Linked DNA regions of Homo sapiens: region 1 is linked to region 2. Evidence: fine-mapped expression QTL. Tissue or cell type: whole blood. Region 2 holds a variant in brackets; the other region holds the start of a gene. All regions are shown on one strand. Distances are from middle to middle.

Evidence for each region. PIP is the estimated chance that this variant, and not a neighbour inherited with it, causes the effect.
Region 1: it holds the start of TAL1, and the variant in region 2 is fine-mapped to the expression of TAL1 in whole blood (INTERVAL, PIP 0.98).

What each region holds. Positions count from the first base shown.
Region 1 is chr1:47,230,860-47,233,543 of GRCh38, forward strand. It overlaps TAL1 (TAL bHLH transcription factor 1, erythroid differentiation factor), which reads right to left and starts at 1,366. Exons shown (of 5, transcript NM_001290403.2): 1 at 1,308-1,366. RefSeq lists enhancers at 1-561, 562-1,535.
Region 2 is chr1:47,204,824-47,207,507 of GRCh38, forward strand. No RefSeq gene overlaps it. Among named protein-coding and RNA genes, the nearest start is that of PDZK1IP1, 16 kb to the left of the region's middle. The variant A/G (reference allele first, on the strand shown) is at 1,114.

The DNA of each region.
Region 1 (2,684 bases), 26 kb after region 2:
CTCGGTCTCGGATGCGACGGGTATCAGACCCAAGCGGCAACGTCGCTCACCCGAAGAGGGGGCGGGAAAATCTTCCCAGGAGGTGATCCCGAATGTCCCCACCCGAGGCTCGAGGCCTGGTGAATGTGCCCATTGTCCTTTCGGGGCCTCTCCCTTGGAGCCCGGCGGCCGCACCCACGAAACTGACCAGAAATGGATGAAGCCGGAGTGCAGCGGGAACCGAAGCCCGCAGCTACCGGCTCGAAGGCGCCGGCCTCGGCGAGCGCTGCTCAGCTTCAAGCCTGGAGGAGCCTCCCACTCACCAACGAACCCCTCAAACACCTAGGCACAGGCGGGCCTCCGGGCAGAGCAGCCGCCGACCGGGCGCTGTCCGCCCACCCAAGCCAACAACTGGCTCCCGAATACATCATAATTTGGAATAAAATGTGAAATCCCGCTCCCCGCCCCCATGCCGCCGCCCCCACCAGCGCCTCGATCTCTCGCTCGCCCTCCCCCCACTCCCGCCCCCAGCGATTTGCAAACGCACCTCTAAAGGACACAGGCACACAGGCATACAACTCAGTGCGGACAGGACCACACAGGGTCCAGCCCCACAGAAGGGCAGCAAACAAACACCACCTAGCACTGCCCCAGAAGCCGACTTGGTCAGCCCCGCACACTGCCCAACAGGACACAACGAAATCAGTCAAACGCAGCGGCTCACGGACACACAATCCAGCACAGTCGGGATCACACACGCCCGACATAACGACGACACCACCCAAACACAGTCGCAGGGGCCACACACCCCCACACACAGAATCAGATCCCTGCTGAGAACACCAACGGAGCACAATCGTACGCAACGAAGAAAACGCAGAAGGGCCTCGAAGGGTCCACATCTACACACCCCAACCGCGCAGGCACACCACACTCGGACACAGAGCCTGTCGCCAAGAAGACCACACTTAGAAGCAGCCAACGCCGCCCACAGTTCTCATGAACGCACTCTCACAATCCCACCGCATGCACACAACCACGAAGAAGAAATGAAAACCAACCACAGCCTCGCGCATTTCTGTATATTGCGTAAGGAAAAGGGGGAAGGAAGGAAGAGAGTCTCCGAGGCGGGAGGGGCGGCGGCAGCCGGGGCGGGGGCGTCCGTGGAAAATGCCCCCCCACCGCCCCCCCCGGCCATCGAAAGGAACCGAGGGAAAGGGAGCGAAGACCTCTTTTGCGGACGTGGGGAAAAAGAGGAGGAAATTGATGAAGAATTCGGTGGGAGGCCGCGGGTTGCTTTTCCCCTAGAAAAAGGCCAGAATGCTCACGTTTTTCCGCTACGGGGGTACGCGTGTGGCCATTTTGAGGCCCGGTCCTGAGCGGCGGCGGCCCGGCCCCTCCCGCGGCCCCCGCTCCCCCGCCCGCCCCGCGCCCGCCCGGCCCCTCCACCGACGCGCTGTAATCCCACTCACGTTCCAGGCCTCGTTAGCATGGGCCGAGGCGCGCCGGGGCCGTGTGCGCCGCAGAGATAAGGCACTGCCGCGGGTCCGCCCGCCCCCGATAAGCGCCTCGGCCATTATGGGCCAAATGATTCATTTTAATTTGGCAATTTCACCGGAGGGAGTGGGGACTGGTTGAGCGGCGCTAGGACCGGCTCCGGAACGCGCTGCGGGGAGCGTTGGACGCGCTGTCTAGGACCCAGCAGATCCAGCCCCCATCTCTAATCCCAAGGCCTCTCAGGAACCCCAGCTTCCCACAACCTCAGTCCCTTAACCTTTCAGACACCTTTCTTCAGCGACTCTCACCCCAGCACTCTGTCCCTACCTCTGAAGACCACCATGATACCAAAATCGTCACCTCCCAGGGCTTCTTTCTTATTCTTCCTCCAGTGTCCCAGACACCCAGATTTCAATGGGCAGTCTCCCTATCCCAGAAAGCTCCCCAGCCCTTCCCTACCTCTTCACCCCCTTCTAAAATAGAGCCGGTAACTCAAATCCATGGGCTCTACGGCGGCCTGGCAGAACCCCTGTCAATAGGGACATAAAATGCCTATTCTGCTAGGTTTCAGGCTGAGCCCAGAGCCCAGGAACACTGCTCCCCACATGGTATTTAAAAAAAAAAAAAAAGTTTAATCTAGCGACTGTAACACTATTCTAGGCATTCTGCAAATACTAATCTACTCTTCACAAACAGTCCTGAGAAGCTGGATCCTTAATTTACAGAAGAGAAAACTGAGGCACAGAAAGTCAAAGTAACTTTTCGAATGATACATAGCTAGTGCTTGGTGGAGTCTGCCTTGGAAGGAAATTTGACACGGAGTCTTCTCTGCGGCTCAGCTGATGAAGAGGGGCAGCCAAAACCTAGCCAGGGAAAGGGACCTGGGCTCAACTCATTGCAGAGACCAGGGTCTTTACTGTGGGGTAGAAATCTGAGTTCAGTGCCAGCTGGATGATGCGCTCAGCCCACGGAGGGTCTCTGGGTTCATTCTTTCATGGTGGAGTGGAAAGAACACATGTTCGAATTTTAGTCACTGATCTCTGAACCTCAGTTTTCTCATTTGTAAAATGGGGAGATAATGTCGACGTCACAAAGTTATGAGAACTAACTTATATGACCTTTAAAAGGTGGTGGTGAGGATAATAATGTATGGAACGTCACTCAGTCCACAGCCCAGGAAAACATCATATGCACTTGCATGGGAGTTC
Region 2 (2,684 bases):
AGTAAATGGAACCACCATATAACTGGTTGTTCAAATTAGAAAAATTGACACCATCCTTGGGAGGCCGGGGCTGGTGGATCACCTGAGGTCAGGAGTTCGAGACCAACCTGGCCAACATGGTGAAACTCCATCTCTACTAAAAATACAAAAATTAGCTGAACGTGGTGGTGGGCACCTGTAATCCCAGCAACTTGGGAGGCTGAGGAGGAGAATCACTTGAATCTGGGGGGTGGAGGTTGCAGTGAGCCAAGATCGTGCCGTTGCACCCCAGCCTGGGCAACAAGAGCCAAACTCTGATTCAAAAAAAAAAAAATAGCTAGAAAAGAGGATTTGAAATGCTCCCAACACAAAGAAATGACAAATACTCGAGGTGATGGATGTCCTAAATACCCTGCCTTGGTCATTATACATCCTATGCATGTAACAAAAATCACATGTACCCCATAAATATGTACAAATATTATGTATCAATAAAAATAAAATAAAAAAGAAGAAATTACAATAGTATATATGGGTTACAGAGCTTGAGTTTTGAAATGGGACACATATAAGTTGGGATCCGGTTCTGCTTTTTCCTCGTGGTGTGACTTTAGTGAGTCCCTTGCCCCCTTGGGTTTTAGTTTATCCATCTAAATAATGGGGGTGATAATAGCACCCTCCTCTTGGGTTTGTTGGGGGAGTGAGGTGAGAAGGTGCTAGAAAGCACTTGGCATAGTGCTCACTGAGCACTATGACCCAGCCCTGTCTGCATTATACACCATCCAAATGCAGATCTCTCCCAAAGTTACATTTCCAACCCAGACCACTCCACTGACAGGGTCTCAAACGTAAGATGTCCTGAACTGAGCTCCTGAGCTCACCCCACTGAAAACCAGCTCCTCCCACAGCCTTCCTGCTTAGTATGCGGTGTTCTGGCCCTCCAGCGATTCAGAGGAAGGATCTCATAGTTGATTTTGACGTTCCCCTCTGACGCTTTCCACACTGGATCCATCAGTAGATCCTCTTGGCTCTTTCTAAATATATCTAGACTTCTATAATAATACTTATTACCACCTCCATTGCTGCAACATCCAAGCCCCTTATCGCTCATTAGCCTTATCACAATAGTGTCCT[A/G]ACTGATCTCCCCAATTTTGCTATGCTCCATTCTGTCTGCTCTCACCATGACAGCCAGAGAGATTCTTTCGAAAATTTAGTCCCTTGCCTATTCAATATCCTCTGATGGGGCCAGGCGCAGTGGCTCACACCTATAATCCCAGCACTCTGAGAGGCCGAGGCTGGAGGACTGCTTGAGCTCTGGAGTTCGAGACCAGCCTGGGCAACATAGTGAGACCTCATCTCTACTAAAAACCAAAGGCATGGTGGCGCCTGCCTGTGGTTCCAGCTACTCAGTGGGCTGAGGTAGGAGGATTGCCTGAGCCTGGGAGATCAAGGCTGCAGTGAGCTATAATTACACCAGTGCACTCCAACCTGAGCAACAGAGAGGGACCCTGTCTCAAAAATAAATAAATAAATATAAATAAAAGAATAATAAAACAAATCCTCCAATGTTATTGCATCCCACCCAAAGTAAAAGCCAAAGTCCCTATGTGGACTAGAGGCTCCATGTGGTACCTCTCCAACCCATCTCTCACTCCTCTCCTCCTCATTCCAGCCATTCCTGCTTCCTTGCTGCCCTGAACCAGTCCATGCCAGGCACACTGCAGCCTCAGGGCCCTTGCACTAGCTGTTCCCCTCCATTACACTCTTTCCCCAAATATCTGCATGGCTTATTGCCTCATCTCCTTCAGGTCTTGACTCCGGTGACCCCTATTCTGCGAGACCCTCTTGCTTACTTCCAAAAAAGGCCCTCCCTTCATTGAAAACCCCCTAAAACACACACACACACACACACACACACACACACACACACACACACTCACTATTCCCTTTCCCAGCTTCATTCTTCTCTTTGGCATTTATCCCCATCCAATCCACTAATTATTTAACTTATTTTTCTTATTTATCATCTGTCTCTCCACTAAGAATATAAACTTCACCAAAGAAAATGTTTCTTTTTCATTGCTCTATTCTGGTCATTGCTTTAAGAACAGGACCTGGGAATACAAAAAATTAGCCAGGCGTGGTGGCGGGCGCCTGTAGTCCCAGCTACTCGGGAGGCTGAGGCAGCAGAATGGTGTGAACCCGGGAGGCGGGGCTTGCAGTGAGCCGAGATCGCGCCACTGCACTCCAGCCTGGGTGACAGAGCGAGACTCAGTCTCAAAAAAAAAAAAAAAAAAAAAAAAAAGAACAGGACCTGGCATGTGTGATGTGCTCAACACATATTGATTTTAAAAGTGACATGCCAAGGGGCTACATTGGAGCATTGAAGCCCCCTTCAATCACACAAGCAGGTGCCTACCTCTCCTGCAACTTTCCTGCAAAATCAGGATGCCAGTGCATGATGCAAACCCTTTCCGACTAGAGATGGAGCCGGGAAAGATGCAAGCTCTGGGCTGGAGGGTCAGCGAGGACACTCTGTGCAGAGGCTTTGGCCTTGTGTACCATGGACCTCTGGGGCAGTGTGGTGGAGTCTATGATCCCCTTAAAAATTAATGCCTTAAACACATAAAATAAAATACATAGAATAATGAAAATCAAAGGCATTGAAATACAATTGTCAAGATATTTTAAATTTTTATGATGTA